Homo sapiens: one gene and its partners. The protein of the gene in region 4 interacts with the protein of the main gene of each other region in a biochemical or structural test. Each region holds a gene or a part of one and is shown on either strand. Other genes may lie near its edges.

Region 1 (3,860 bases), about 46 Mb from region 4:
TGGTTTCTTCCTCATTTGCAGCTTGTTGATACTTGTTCCTTTTTATTTATTAACATCCCAATCAATTTGCAGCTGCCATCATTACATAAATATTTTTCTGTTATAAAAAGAAGTGTGATCTGTTTTTTTAGTGATTTCCTTTGTTTGGGAATAGAGATTGGAAGCACATACTCAGACCTGTTTTGTTAACTAGAATTCTTTAAAAGCTGATGCCAAACATCTTTACAGAGGAACTGTAGTTCACATCCACCTGTCTGACATTGTCCCCTAAAAACAAGTGCAGTGTGGCAGCTGCTGAATCTGTCTGTTCAGTTTGTCAAGGAGGATAATTATGCTTGGGAGAGATCTGAAAAGAAGGTGAATATTTTGCACTTTTGATACTCTTAGGAACAAATAACTTATTTGGCAAATTGTTTCTTTTTTATGTTTTGGGTGTTGTTTTTGTTTTTTGACTTTTTTTGTATTGTGAACAGGCACTGAAGCTGATGTTATTTTAAGATTACAGAATGGAAAAAGAAATAAACTATTTTAATGTCTGATAATTATGGGGTAGCCCTTGCATTGCAAGATGATGATTTGATTATGGACACATTATCAACAGAATTGAATTTGCATGGAACTCAAGACACGCTTAAGATCACCACAGCATAACTGCAGATTTCAGGAATTACAGTCATAGAGGGTACATCAACTTGAAGAGTAGATTGAGTCTTACAGGAAGTGAGTTACAATAAGTAACATTAAGAGCCCAGCTGCCAGCCTGGCCAACATGGTGAAACCCCGTCTCTACTAAAAATACAAAAATTAGCCGGGCGTGGTGACGCATGACTGTAATTCTAGCTACTCAGGAGGCTGAGGCAGCAGAATTGCTTGAACCCAGGAGGCGGAGATTGCAGTGAGCTAAGATCGGGCCACTGCACTCCAGCCTGGGGGACAGAGCGAGACTCCATCTCAGAAAAAAAAAAAAAAAAAAAAGCCCAGCTGACATTTTCCAGTTTTGTTTTGTTTTCTGGGGTTTTTTTGTTTTGTTTTGTTTTGTTTTGTTTTTTAGTAGAGACGGGGTTTCACCATGTTGGCCAGGCTGGTCTTGAACTCCTGACCTCAGGTGATCCTCCCGCCTAGGCCTGGGATTACAGGCGTGAGCCACTGGGTCCGGCCTGCTTTTTTTTTTTTTTTTTTTTTTTTGGAGACGGAGTCTCACTCTGTCACCCAGGCTGGAGTGTAGTGGCATGACCTCAGCTCACTGCAACCTCCACCTCCCGGGTTCAAGCAATGCCCCTGCCTCAGCTTCCTGAGTAGCTGGGACTATAGGCACGCGCCACCACGCCCAGCTAACTTCTGTATTTTCAGTAGAGATGGGTTTTCACCATGTTGGCCAGGCTGGTCTCGAACTCCTGACCTCAAGTGATCTGCCCACCTCCGCCCCCCAAAGTGCTGGGATTACAGGCATGAGCCACCGTGTCCAGCCTTAGGTTTTCTAGTTTAGAAGACATTTTGTGTACCCTTCTAGGCCTCTGAGCAAGAAGTTTCTTCATTAGGCTCTCCGTGTTACTTTATACTTTTTACTTACGTTCACAGTGGTCCTAAAACCAAGATGCAGCCCTAAGCACCTCATAGGAGAAGCTGTATTTTTTTTTTTTTTTTTTGAGATGGAGTCTTGCTCTGGCACCCAGGCTGGAGTGCAGTGGTGCGATCTCAGCTCACTGCAGCGTCCGAGGAGGAGCTGTAGTTTAAAGGAAGATACTCAATACTCTAGGAAGCAGATCATCAAAATTTTAAAAAGCGGCTGGGTGCGGTGGCTCATGCCTGTAATCCCAGCACTTTAAGGAGGCTGAGGCGGGCGGATCACCTTAGGTCAGGAGTTCAAGACCAGCCTGGCCAATGTGGTGAAACCCTGTCTCTACTAAAAATACAAAAATTAGCCAGGCGTGGTGGCAGGCACCTGTAATCCCAGGTACTCAGGAGGCTGAGGCAGGAGAATCGATTGAACTCGGGAGGCGGAGGTTGCAATGAACCGAGATCATGCCATTGCACTCCAGCCTGGGTGACAAGCAAAACTCTATCTCAAAAAAAAAAATGTTTAAAAGGAAGATATAGAAATATGGAATGCTTATACAGTATTATTTCATAGTTTTTTTAAATGTCATGTTTCTAATGTTTAGATAATCTTGAAAGAAATTCTCCTCACTTCCCCTTTATCCTCCATCTTTCATCAAAGGAAAAAAAATCAAAGCAGTACAAGTACTCCTTTTTTTTTCCCCCAATTAATCCAAGTTCCTTAGAAATGTTGCTGTTTGGGTGAGAATTCTACTGATTATCCCGACTTCACAGCCAGCAATGACACTTTCAGCAGAAAGTTTTCTTGGCATAAACTCTTTAGTTCTCAGACTGCTTACTCATAAGTTCTTCTTGAGAACTTGTCAGCGACGCAATCTGTTTTGTCTTGAAGAGCACAAGACTCAGACGGTTGTCACTTTGGGGAGAGCACATAGCATCTCAAACAGCAGGTTAGCCGCCAGCAGGGCTGTGTTCCCTAAGAAAAAGTAAAACCTCACATGAATACCCTGCAGACGACCCGCTGAGCCAAGCCTTGGGACTCCTCAGCTTTCTCTTCCCCTTGTGCCTCCTTTTCCAGAGCCCTGTCTTGTGCACCCCTCTAGGGTGCCCGCCAGCTGTGAACACGCTTGCCCAGGCTCTCTGCCTCCATCAAGCATCATTTGGGAATCATATTTTAAAATTCAGAAAGTTCTTTGTTTACTCTGAGAACAGATTTTTCCCAAAGGAGAACCTATAATAATGATGTGTACTGTATTATCTATCCTCTGAGGTCGATAGGCCTAATTCCATAAGTTTGTCTACATTAAAATTATTGGGATGGCGTCTGCTTTGAAGATCTTAACCAGCTAAGTTCCTATTTGATAAATATTAACATATATTATTTATGCTTTAGAATTCACTTTGCAATGAAACATCAAAGGAGACGGGGATTGGGCCACCCTGTCACTAGACTACAGGCTGGTTTCTTTCTCTTCTGCTGATTGGTGGGCAAGCTAATGATACTTAACTACCTCCTGGGGGTTTTGTTAGGGTTAATGAGCTCATGTTTGTAAGGTGTGCAGTAATAGGTGTGTTTTCTTCACCATTGGACATGCTCAGCTGCTTCCCCAAGTCATATAAGGGACTCATCTTTTTTTTTTTTTTTTTGAGATGGAGTCTCGCTCTGTCACCCAGGCTGGAGTGCAGTGGCGCAATCTCAGCTCACTGCAACCTCCGCCTCCTAGGTTCTAAGCGATTCTCCTGCCTTAGCCTCCTGAGTACCTGGGATTACAGGTGTGTGCCACCACACCTGGCTAATTTTTATATCTTTAGAGAGATGGGGTTTCGCCATGTTGGCCAAATTGGTCTTGAACTCCTGACCTCAGGTGAGCTGCCCACCTTGGCCTCCCAAAGTGCTGGGATTACAGGCTTGGGCCACCATGCCTGGCCCCATTTTCTACTTATTAACTAGCTTCGTGTAATTTAAGCTACCGGCTGCCCATGGATCTCAGTCTCTTTGCTTACTCACCAGAAAGATCATACGGTGGTGAAACTTCGACAAGATCACAGCCCATCACGTTCAGGCCTTGACAACCCCTGATGATCTCCAGAGCCTATTCAAGATCAAGACTGAGTTGTCCACAGTGGTAATCATTTACAGTGAAAAGCACCCAGTAGAGCTTTTCCCAGCCCACGCCACCCTTTGACTTGGAATTGGCTTTCCCTCCATAAACATTTGTTGACTGCCAGGCACACTGGCAGGCCTCCCAGAGAAACAGATAATGCGTACACAGTCCCTGCTCCTCAGGGCTGCATGGTGTGGT
Region 2 (3,678 bases), on a different chromosome or scaffold from region 4:
GAGCCTCGGTTATGGGTATACAGGGAGCCAGGGCACACGCAGCTTGATGCCTGGGTCCCTCCCTGAGTCCTTCCTACTTCCTTCTGATCAGCCACATCCCTTCTCCCCATGAGTCCCCAACAGCAAAACTTCTCAAGTGCCTTGGGTAGGGATGGTAGGGAATAGACTTTAACATGTGAACATGTTTTTACCACTTTGATCCTAATTGCGTCTTACCCTGTCTCTGGTGCTTTGGCTTAGCAAGACACTCAGACTGTCCCCATGGATGAATTGGCGACCCCACTCCTGCCTGCATTACTCTCTCCCTCCCCTAGAGGTGACACCTTCCTCTGCCTTCTCGCCCAGCCCATTTTCGCCTCCCCAAGCACTGCCAACCTCACCACTCCAAACTAGCCCTATCCCTACCCACCCCCCTTGGTTGGTTTCATGCAATCCAACCCTCAGCTGAAAGCCATTCTAACCAAGCCTTTGTCCCAATTCAAGTCCAGTCATTCTCCAGCCTTCTTGTCAACTTTTGAAGTTTTTTATTTTTATTTTTTTTGGTTTTTGTTGTTCAAATTTCCCTTTTACAGTAAAACTACTGAGGTGACGGCATACCCCGCCACCATGGCAATATCAACTTCCTGTTCCCCAGAAGGAGCGATTAGAAAAATCAGGAAGGAGCTGGGAACTACAGCACCAGAGAGGTGAACTTGACCTCTGGTGGACAAAGCAACCATCTTGGCTGGTGATTGAGGTGGCCAACCTGGTGCCCAACAACAGCTTTGATCTAATAAAACTGAGCTGGGAGGAAACTGAGGCAACACCCAATTGCACACTAGAGGGCAGGAAGAGGTATCAGCTGGTCACTATGGAAACAGTGGCCTTTGCTAAGTACCACTGTCAGCTAGACCAGCCAGTAGGCCACCATTTTGGTCACTAAGAAGGGAACTGTGTTGAGTCTGAAAGGAGTCAGAAATGTAGGATGGAATGAACAAGACAGCCATCTGGGTTACTCGGGAGAGCACATGGGTTCTTGGGGTAGTCCTGTTGATTAACAGAGATTATACTGGGATATGGAAAGGAAAGAACAAGACAAATTAGGCCTGCCACAGCACATGGCAGTCATCTTAGCTGTCCTAAAATCAGCACAGAGCACAAGGGAAGGGAGATCTTGGGAAGTGCCACTGAAGACTGGGAAAAGTCCTTCTCGGTCCACCTCTAACCTCTTACAGTCAGTAAGTTCCAGCTTCCTCCTGAAAGGAAGTTCTTCCCGCCCTTCTTCTCCACAGAATAAGAACCATCCACCTCCCACCTCCTGATCCCCCAGACTAAGCCACTTGGAGTTCCAGCCAGACCACTTCCTGTTTCAGAAGTGCTACTTCCTGTCCTGGATGAAGGCACTTCCAGTTCCTGCTGCACTGCTTCTGCTACTTCCCAGGCCATTTCTGTCCGGGCCTGGTCACCTCTTGTCTGGAGCAAGTCACTTCCGGTCCCAAGTGGCCCATTCAGCATCAGACCAAGTCCATACATGTCCCGACCGGTTCATATCTTGCTATTGGCCACTGGACAAAACGGGACACTTCTTCTCATGGTAGCTGTCATGACCCAACCACCCCAAATGGCTGGAGTAAGTATGTAGAGGCCTGGGCCAGGCCAGAGAATGGAGCCCTGCTGCCCATGGCCTGAGCTGGGGTGGAGTGTCAGAGCCTTCCCCATAAGGCCCCCATTTTTGGCAGACTGAGGGGAGTGGTTGGTATGAGAGGTCAGAAGGGGGGCTGAAAGCTAAGGGGAGAAATGCTTTGATGCCCCCACCCAGGAGATGGGAGAGGCACAGGATAAGAAGCCAAGAGGGTGAAAGGAGATGTGGGGAGGAGGATGCTAGGGAAGAAGAACAGACCTAGAGACGGAAGAGAGGGAAAGAATAAGAGATAGAGAAGAGAAAACCAGTGAGAGGCAGAAAGAAGGCGGTGCCAACCAAAAGGTGGGCTGTTCCCGCCCCTAGCTCTGGGTGGGTGAGGGGGACAAGGATGCCTGGGTCATGGTCAGAGAGGAGGCTGAGCCTGTGCCCCTCCCCAAGGAAAAAGGATCCAGGGACACTGAGACAGAGGGGGGCACCCATGGCCAAACGGGAGGGCAGGAAGTGGGGCAGTGGGAATCCTAAGGAATCCTAAAAGTGGAGACGAGGACAGCAGCCGGGAGGAGTGAAGGGGCTGGGGGGGCACAGGGGGCCGAGATGTTAGAGGTGTCCCTCAAACCAGGAATTAAACTGGAGGAGCACCCCAAGAAGGGCTGGATTCAGGATAGCCACGTGAGAGGAGCCCTCATACCTTGTAGTAGATGTTTGGAGGGCTCTGGGGGGGCCCATCCTGCACGATATACACAGGATGCCCATAGTCACCACTCACCTTCTCATAGTGGGGGCAGAAGGGGGGATCTGCAGCCCCGCCACCCCGCAGAGCTATCCCTAGCTCCCCAGGCTCAGCCTCCCGAGGTCCCATCCCACCTCCACCCCCCAGGCCCAGAGACCCTCCCCTCCCGAAGGAGCCAGGACCAGGGTGGCGACTCTCCGAAGGCTTGGCCCGCCGTCTCCGCCAACACATGGCACCCCCAGCCCCTGCCACGCCCAGCAAGAGCAGCGCCAGCCCCCCTGCTGCCCCAGCCACTGCAGGCATGCTGGGAGGGGGCAGGGGGCCTTCAGCACCCCGGGAGGTTGCATTGCTGGTGGGGTCACCTGGCAGGGAAGGGGTGAAGGAGGAAAGAGGGGGAGGGACTGAAGGAGCCACCTGGGCACCTGGACACCCAACCCTGGGGGTCCCCATGGGCTTCCCTTGTAGCGCCCAGGCCCCTTGGGGACCCCATCTCTCCTCCCCCTCCGAACTCTGCTCAGAATCCAGGTGTCCAGCCCTTCAGCTTCCTGCCACGGAGTCCTCCCCACTTCTCTGACAGCACTGATTGAAGCACTGACTTGGCTAATTAGTTCTAATTGAGTCTTTTCCTCATTTGGTTTCCATTCCCCTCCCACCCTCCCATCCTCTCTTCTCCTCTTTCCTGTATCACCGCCCCCAAAACTGAAGAGGGAGGGAGGGTGACGGCAGGGCAGCTGGGGTCTGAGAGCAGAGGAAGCTGGGGAAGGCAGGGGCCTAGCCCCTGGTTCCTACCTGGCAGGTTCTCCTTCCCAGGCTCCAGGCTGTGGGCTGCCCCTCGGTCTCTTTCCATGGGCATTTCAGACACAGGTTTTCGGGGGACAGCCCCTCCTCGGGGACCTGGAGATGAGGAAGACCCAGAGAGGGGCTGAGACAACTGCCCCAACCATGATCGTACTGCCCCAACGTCCCTTCGTGCCCAGGAGGTGTCCCCCAGCCCCACTCACTTTGTCCCACTCGGAGAAGCACCTTCATGCCTCTGGTTAGGCACACACCTCCCTGCAGGCTCTCCAGGCCCTCCCGGGTCCCATCCGATGTGGCTGGGAGAGAAAAGCCAGAGGAAGAGGTTGGCACTCCAGAATCTAGCCCTGATTCTGGCCCCACACCCTGGTGTGAACACTGCCTGAGGGCACTGGGATCTCCCTCTTGGCTGCAGGGGTCCCCCTCCCTCTCTGCTCAGTATCAGGAGCCCCCCACTCAATCGTGCCCTCTGCCCAGCAGTACCAATGATGTAGTAATCGTGGTGCGAGCGGAACTCGTGGCCCCAGAGATT
Region 3 (3,507 bases), on a different chromosome or scaffold from region 4:
CCACCAGGTTTGCCCTGCAGAGACCCCCCAGGGTAGGGGTTAGCTACCTAGGGAGACTCCATCTGGCCGTTTGCTATGTGGCCGTGGTGCATCGGCCCCCAGGAGGACACAGACTGGATTCCTGCACTTGAGGGGTTCATGGTGTAGAAGGAAAGGATCCATGCTGTGTACCCCCATAGACACACCAATGACCAGAATCCAGGGCGGCTCCCCGGGAACTGAGGACGCTGCCTTGATCCTGTCTCAACAAGTCTAGCAGACCTCAGGACCTCAAGGATAAGCTGCAGCTCAAAGGACCCAGGAAGCCTCCGTCTTTTTCTTTTCTTTTTCTTTTTTTTTTGAGACGGAGTCTCCCTCTGTTGCTCAGGCTGGAATGCAGTGGCGCGATCTCGGCTCCCTGCAACCTTGGCCTCCCGGGTTCAAGAGATTCTCCTGCCTCAGCCTCCCAAGTAGCTGAGATTACAGGCTCCCGCCACCATGCCCGGCTAATTTTTGTATTTTCAGTAGAGACAGGGTTTCGCCATGTTGGTCAGGCTGGTCTCCAACTCCTGACATTGAGTGATCCGCCTGCCTCAGCCTCTCAAAGTGCTGGGATTATAGGCGTGAGCCATTGCACGCGGCCGGGAGACCTCCTTCCTAACGCACGAGCTCCGGACCATGTCGGGAGGAGACGAGGAAGCTGGGATCGGGTGAACGGAGCCCGGGCCAAGATGTCTGTCTTTGCAGGAGATAGAGGAACAAGCGTTCTGAGCAGCCTCAGAGCACAGAATGAGAACCAAGAGTAGAGGGCAGAAGGCTCAGCACAAAAGCTGCATCAGGTAGGCACGGTGGTGCACGTTTGCAGTCCCAGCTACTTGGGAGGCTGAGACACGAGAACTGCTTGAACCCGGGAGGGGGAGATTGCAGTGAACTGAGATCTTGCCACTGCACTCCAGCCTGGGCAGCAGAGGGAGGCTCTGTCTCAAAACAAAACAAACCAAAAAACAAAAAAAACAAAAAATAAGCATGACCAGCCTGGGCAACAAAGTGAGACCTATAGCCGAGCACAGTGGCTCATGCCTGTAGTTCTAGTTACTCAGGAGGCTGAGCCCAGGAGGTCGAGACTGCAGTGAGCCATGATCGTGACAATGTACTCCAGCCTGGGTGACAGAGCAAGACCTTGTTTCTACACAATAAAAAATTTCTAACAATTTAAACAAGCAAGTACATTGCACTTTATTGGGTGATTCAAGGAATCTTCAGAGGAAATTTCGACAGTAAGCTATTTTCACAAATGCCTTGACTCAGAACCAGATCCTGGAGTAACAGACAACTAAGCGCAATGCACACAGGAACCCATTGCTGTGCACAAGCAATGGAATGTAAACCATGCGCACAAATTAAAATCTTCTAGTACCCATGTTTAAAAAGAACAGGTGAACTCACTTCATTTATTTAGAGACAGGGTCCTGCTCTACCTCCCAAGCTGGGGTGCAGCGGCACGATTACAGCTCACTGCAGCCTCCAACTCCTGTCCTCAAGTGATCCTCCCACCTCAGCCTTCCTAGTAGCTAGGATCACAGGTGTGAGCCATCATGTCTGGCTCTTTTTAATTAATTAATTTTTATTATTATTATTATTTTCTGAGACAAAGTCTCATTCTGTCGCCCAGGCTGGAGTACAGTGGTGTGATCTTGGCTCACTGCAACCTCCACCTCACGGGTTCAAGCAATTCTCCTGCCTCAGCCTCCGAAGTAGCTGGAATTACAAGCACCCGCCACCACGCCCAGCTAATTTTTGTATTTTTAGTAGAGACAAGGTTTCGCCATGTTGGTCAGGCTGCTCTTGAATTCCTGGGTTCAAGCCACCTGCCCACCTTGGCCTCCCAAAGTGCTGGGATTACAGACATAAGCCACTGCACCTGGCTGAAATTAATTTTAATAACACATTTGATTTAACCCATCAAAAATGTTATCATTTTCAACGTACAACCAGTATGAAAAATGAATGAATGTTTCACACTGTTTCCGTCTTAAGCCTTTGAAATCTACAATGGCATTATTGCGCCTATGCTCTCGTGGGTTTGGGCAATTCTTGTTTTATGTGTTGCCTGTAGCCAGGGGCTACTCAACCAGGCAGTGCAGCTTTAAATGGCTCTCTGGAAGAACAGGCCACCTCCAGAGGTCCCAATTCAGGAAGGAGCTAAAGCCAAGGTGGACAGCCAGAGAGGGGACTGAAGCAGGGAATGAAGGCGTGGACTGCTCCTTCCATCTGGAAATTTCCAATCCCAAAGTTCGACCACTGTTCGCCTACAGCTGGAAGTGGCGTAAGCCACGGGGCACACAGGCCAGAACCGAGGCGATGGCGCTGGAGCTGGTGCTGCAAAGAGCTCGCTGGAAGGCAGGGGCCTGGGCACCGCTTCCTGGGCTGGACAAACACCATCTCATTCCATTCTCACCATCGTCCCCGGAGGCCCAGGCAGGAGGGAACAGACTCACAGGGGTGGGGGAACCTGCCCGAGGTAACAACACCTGCCTGAGGTCAGGACAACCCCTGCTCATCTTAGTGTCCCCCATGAGGGGAAACAGGGCCCTAGTAGGTGCTCACTGAGGAGCTGCTGAACAAGGACCCAGAAGAAGCAGAAATGGCGAGACCCTGGGAGTGGGACAGAAGGTAAGGAGGGGAACATGAATGAATGAATGAATAACATCAATGAATAAATGAATATTTATTTTTTTTGAGACAGTCTTGCTCTGTCGCCCAGGCTGGAGTGCACTGGCACGATCTCAGCTCACTGCAACCTCTGCCTCCTGGGTCCAAGCGATTCTCCTGCCTCAGCCTCCTGAGTAGCTGGGATTACAGGTGTGCATCACCGCGCTCAGCTAATTTTTTTGGCATTTTTAATAGAGACGGGGTTTTGCCATGTTGGCCAGGTTGGTCTTGAACTCTGGGCCTCAAGTAATCCACCCACCTTGGCCTCCCAAAGGGCTGGGATTACAGGCGTGAGCCACCACACCCAGCCATGAATGAACACTTCTGATGGCAGACTTGGAAGGTCTCAAGTACTGCTCAAAACATTGAAAATGCATTCTGGAGTCAGCTGACTAATCCATCTTAAATTTACTGGCAACCCAACTGTGGTTATTAAACAAAACAAAACAAAACCTTGGCGTCCCTACAGCCAGCTTCCTCTCCTGGGGGAATCCTTCAAGAGATGGGAATCAAACCCCACACGGAAGAGAAATGTGAAGGGCGAGTTCTGTGCAGAGAATGAGGAACGGGTCCCCGTGTCTGGCTGTGCCCGTGTTGACTTGCACACATTGGCATCAAGAGTCTTCATCTGGGTCACAGAAGGCCGACCCCCAAGCGGGAGAGGCCACCAGACATGCCACAGTCCCTGACACCTGGTTCTTGAGGGGTCACACCGCAGGCACGGCACCCGGACCCCAGCCAAGGGCCCCGGGGATCGCCCTGCCCTGCCTCGGCCTGCAGAACGGGAGTGCAGAGATCACCCTGGCATGACCCCAC
Region 4 (5,082 bases):
AGGGGCTACAACCAGATTATCCTTCCAAATGTTTTCTAGATTTTCCAAATTACATTAGTTCTAATTTCCATTAATTATGGGGTGTCACCCAGGCTGGAGTACAGTGGCGCAATCTCGGCTCACTGCAACCTCCGCCTCTGGGGTTCAAGCGATTCTCCTGCCTCAGCCTCCCAACTATCTGGGATTACAGGTGCCTGCCACCACGCCCGGCTAATTTTTCTATTTTTAGTAGAGACAGGGTTTTGCCATGTTGGTCGGGCTAGTCTCAAACTCCTGACCTCTAGTGATCCACCCTCCTCGGCCTCAGAAAGTGATGCAATTACAGGTGTGAACCACTGCGCTTGGCCAAAAATCTTATTTTAACAAGAATAGAGATGTGTTCAATTAGTCATTGTCTAAAAACTCTCCTTAGCAAGACCTTATCTCAAAAAATAAATGTTAATTTTTTTTTAAAAAGCTCTCCTTACCACATACATGGATACTTTCCTTATGTAATTTTAAGTCAATAAATTTTCAACACACAGGTTAGAAAATGGTGTCAGTTTCTCCTAACAATATAAAAATAGAAGCAAGCAAAATACATACTAATACATTTTACAGCAAAAAGAATGAGTATAAGCTCCTTTGTAAAACTAAAACAGGAGAAATGAAGCTAAATATTTCCATGAGAAGATACAACTTTACCTGAGCCATCTGTTGAATGACTGAGTTAAAGTCTTCATTTCCCAACTTCGGGGTCCACGGAAATAACCCAGATACAGTCGAGTTATTAGAGGGCCTGTGGACATTTCCATTAGTGATGGAACCATCTGTGAACACTAACAAACCTTTCCTAGAAAAATCAAAGTTGGCTGAACAATCTGAGGGTATATGGTTGAGCTGTTGGAGAGAAAAAAAAAGAATCAACAGAAATCTATAGAAAAATTGTTTCTATTTATTAAATATATTTTGACCATTACATAGATACTTTGCACATTAAATATATACATGGAAAAGAAATAAGGTAAAGATAGATCAAATCTGTGTATTCACAAGGCTAAAAATTTTTTAAATTTAGTATTACACAAAATGTTTAATAGCTTAAAATTTGTTCTTATTTCCTGCCTTCTACCACTAGTCCAAGTTAACAGCATGTACACTGACATCTTTTTACACTTCACATATACAGATGCATCCAGTCACATAACAGTGTAAGGCACTAAACCTTTTTCCATTTATCTGTACAATTCCACGTGGGGAGCAACAAAAGATCCACAGGTAGTATATAATGATAATAACTGTACTTATTGAGTGCTTGCTATGAGTAAGTACTATACCAGCATGATTGCAGGTATTATCATTTAATTCTTACAACAATCTAATGAGATATCATTATCCCATTTTGTGAGCCTAAAAACCGAGGCACACAGGGGTTAAGTAACTTACTCAAGATTAGCAGTGAGTCACGGAGCCACTTAAACATTGATAGAAAGAGGAGAATCATGTAATTATGGTGGACATAATTTAAAATATCATTGGCTGATACAACTGCCAAAACAGTAGAATAAAGGTAACATTAAGAATAAATGTCAGTGGTGAAACCCCATCGCTATCAAAAATACAAAAATTAGCCGGGCATGGTGGTACACACTTGTAATTCCAAGGTACTTGGGAGGCTGAGGCAAGAGAATTGCTTGAATCCCGCAGGTGGAGGCTACAGTGAGCCGAGATTGCACCACTGCACTCAGCCTGGATGACAGAGCAAGACTCTGTCTCCAAAAAAAAAAACAGAATAAATGTTAGGCCGGGTGTGATGGCTCACACCTGTAATCCCAGCACTTTGGGAGATCAAGGTGGGAGGACTGCTTCAGGGCCAGGAGTTCAAGACCAGCCTGGGCAACATAGTGAGACTCTTGTCTCAACAAAAAATACAAAAATTAGCTGGGCATGGTGTCACATGCCTGTAGGCCCAGCTACTTGGGAGGATGAAGTGGGAGGATTGCTTGAGCCCAGGAGGTTGAGGCTACAATGATCCATAATCACACCACTGTACTCTAGCCCAGGCAAATACTCTGCCTCAAAAAAAAAAAAAAAAAAAAAAAAAAAAAAAAATGAATGTCAATAAAACCTCAAAGAAAAAATAAAAAACCCCTGGCTACAGGGATTATACAGTCCAATGCATAAAATATGACTGTGTACATAACAACTCCAAACTATACAAATATAAAGAATTGTTATTAGGATAGGGTAGTTACAGCCACTCTTAGTCCAACAAGTGTGATAGATTTCTGCTGATCTTTGCCAATTTCAGTTGCTACCAACAGCATTCACTATTGTGATATTCTGTGACCAAGAGAAATACAGAAAGCTAAACATCAATATAGGCAGTGCTAAAATTAGGGTATAAATTCTGGTCTAAAGAAAGCAATTCACAGAAAGACACATGTAGAATTTAATCCTTAATTGGCTATAAACAAATCACTCACAAAATACTTAATGGGCAAGCATTTTAGTTTATCAGCAAAAACCATTTTTTCCCAAATTTTGTAAATTTTCACTTAACTGTGCTAAATTAGCTCCAATTATGTTTTAAATTCTGCCCAAATTTCATCTATGGTATAGCTACTATTCAAGTTCAGCTTCCAGAATAGGTGATTTAAAAGTAATTTGCCATCCCTGACCCCAAAACAAAGAATCCAAGAGGACAGTTAAAACAATTAATTTCTGGTTCAATCTCAGCACCAAAAAAAAAAAAAAATCCCACAACTGCTAATTTGCACCCCTCTAAGAAGAGGTGATATGTGTCCCTTATTCAATAATGATGTATTAGAGCCTGAAGAATCCAGATAGTGTGGTAAATGAGTAGAAGAAACATAACTATATATTTAAATACCAGGTATTCTGCTTCCAAGGAACTTCTAATCAGAATACGCATGAAAGACAACAAATATTTGATAATTAAGAGAAGTGTGACTATTGTGCTATAAGGGCATGATCACTTCTTGTTAGATAAAAGACTTCGGCCGGGCGAGGTGGCTCACGCCTATAATCCCAGCACTTTGGGAGGCTGAGGCAGGTGGATCACAAGGTCAGGAGATACAGACCATCCTGGCTAACACAGTGAAACCCCGTCTCTACTAAAAAAAATAATAATAATAACACACACACACAAAAAAAAAGACCACACACACACACAAAAAAAGACTTCATAAGGAAAATACGCCTGGGCAAGGTGGCTCATGCCTATAATCCCAGCACTTTGGAAGGCTGAGGTAGGAGGACTGCTTGAGGCCAATAGTTTGAGACCAGCCTGGGCAACATAGGGAGACCCTGCCTCTATAAAATTTTTAAAAATTAGCCCAACTGTGGTGGCACACACCTATCCCAGCTACTCTGGAAGCTGAGGTGGGAACATTGCTTGAGCCTGGGAGGTCAAGGCTGCAGTGAGCTAGGATCACAGCACTGCACTCCCGCCTCAGTGACAGAGAGAAACCTTGTCTCAAAATAAAAAGAAAATATATTTAAGTTAAGCACTATTTTATAGTTTTGAAGATGTTGAGAATTCTCAAAGCATCTGACCTTTACATACTTAAATAAGTACAAAAACCATATTCTAAAACCAAACACAATTTTTTTTTTTTTTTTTGAGACAGGGTCTCAACTCTGCCATCCAGGCTGGAGTGCAGTGGCATGATCATAGCTCACTGCAACCTGGAACTCCTGGGCTCAAGCAGTCCTCCCACCTCAGACTCCTGAGTTGCTGGGACTACCGGTACATGCCACCACATCCAGTTACCAAAGAAAAAATTGATTATTGATATTTCTAAATTATCTATGCCAATGCTACCCACAGGTTATAGGTTACAGGTCCCAATACAGTCTCTTTGCTGAACTGAGTCCTTAAAGATAATTTGTCTTTGTCTATCTCCTCTATCTTTCTTTGATGGTTTGAATATATTAATATAATATATTAATGTAAAACTCTGATGGGTAACTTACTTGACCCTTCAGTTGCTTGATGGACTGCTGAAGTGTGAGTATCTGGTTGAAGAGAGGACTCTTTAGTGTCTCATAAAACATAGATAACTTCTCATTCTGCGACGTGTCACCCTTCTCCTGCAATTTCATTTTCAGGCGATCAAGTACCTGCAGCACCTGCAGTTTATCTTGGGTCAAGATGAATAAGTAGAGTAATAGTTAAGTCCCATTTGAGATTCCATTTTTAAATAATTAATTTAATTATAGAACAATATATCCAGTATACCTGTAGCAGGATTTTCAGGCATTTTGAATTATTCTCTTCAATCACTCTTAAAGACACCTAAAGAAAAAATTTAACAATATAAAAGATGAATTTCAATTGTATATGGCTACAATCCTGTAGAAAAATTAAGGAAAACCTCAAGAACATTCTTTATCAAGGCTCCACTCAGTGAAATTCAAAATTATAACCACAATGAGGTGCCACTACACACCCACTAAGGTAACTAAAATTTAAAAACAGACAACACTAAGTTTCAACGAGGCTGTGAAGTGCCTGGAACTATTATTGTACATTGCTAAGAGAAACGTAAAATATCACAACCACTTCGGAAAATTGGTAGTTTCTTATAAAGTTAAAAATACACTTACTATATGACCCAGCACTTCCACTCACAAATACTTACTCAGTATTCATGAAAATATATGCTCACAAAAACGCCTGCACATGAAAGTTTACAGCATTTTTATTTACAAAAACCCCAAAACTAGAAAAACCCAAGTGTCTAGTAACAGATGAATAAACAAATGGTATATAATATTCAGAAATAAAAAGGAAAAATTACTGATACACACAACAAGGATAAATCTCAAAAATGATATGTGGAAAAAAAGAAACCTGACCCAAAAAAGGCACAAACCATACTGTATGATTACATTCATATGAAGTTCAAGTACTGACAAAACTAATCTACAATTATAGATTAATTTACCTGGGGCAGGGTCATAGGGAACTGACTATGACAGGCTTCAGAACATGCTACTCCCAAAATATGACACCTTGGCATTGTTGAATATTTTAAGTTGAAGGAATCTGAGAAACAGCAGGTGCAAAAAAGACTT

What was found. The genes of interacting proteins can lie anywhere in the genome.
Region 1: the proteins of PATJ (region 4) and AGMAT interact in a test that uses a peptide from one of them, tested with the Homo sapiens proteins (one large-scale study listed by IntAct).
Region 2: the proteins of PATJ (region 4) and EFNB3 interact in a test that uses a peptide from one of them, tested with the Homo sapiens proteins (one large-scale study listed by IntAct).
Region 3: the proteins of PATJ (region 4) and MAP2K2 interact in a test that uses a peptide from one of them, tested with the Homo sapiens proteins (one large-scale study listed by IntAct).

What each region holds. Positions count from the first base shown.
Region 1 is NC_000001.11:15,571,192-15,575,051, forward strand, and holds the end of AGMAT (guanidino acid hydrolase, mitochondrial precursor), read right to left. Parts: intron 3,651-3,860; coding exon 3,566-3,650; intron 2,534-3,565; coding exon 2,460-2,533; 3' UTR 508-2,459; downstream 1-507. UniProt on the Homo sapiens protein: Hydrolyzes linear guanidino acids to form urea and the corresponding amines. Displays specificity for substrates having a negatively charged head group and short chains including taurocyamine, guanidino propanoic and butanoic acids.
Region 2 is NC_000017.11:7,708,202-7,711,879, reverse strand, and holds the end of EFNB3 (ephrin-B3 precursor), read right to left. Parts: coding exon 3,630-3,678; intron 3,446-3,629; coding exon 3,353-3,445; intron 3,246-3,352; coding exon 3,141-3,245; intron 2,714-3,140; coding exon 2,304-2,713; 3' UTR 508-2,303; downstream 1-507. UniProt on the Homo sapiens protein: Cell surface transmembrane ligand for Eph receptors, a family of receptor tyrosine kinases which are crucial for migration, repulsion and adhesion during neuronal, vascular and epithelial development.
Region 3 is NC_000019.10:4,117,616-4,121,122, forward strand, and holds part of MAP2K2 (dual specificity mitogen-activated protein kinase kinase 2), read right to left. Parts: intron 15-3,507; coding exon 1-14. UniProt on the Homo sapiens protein: Catalyzes the concomitant phosphorylation of a threonine and a tyrosine residue in a Thr-Glu-Tyr sequence located in MAP kinases. Activates the ERK1 and ERK2 MAP kinases.
Region 4 is NC_000001.11:61,762,076-61,767,157, reverse strand, and holds part of PATJ (inaD-like protein), read right to left. Parts: intron 4,301-5,082; 5' UTR 4,266-4,300; coding exon 4,244-4,265; intron 4,146-4,243; coding exon 3,979-4,145; intron 880-3,978; coding exon 685-879; intron 1-684.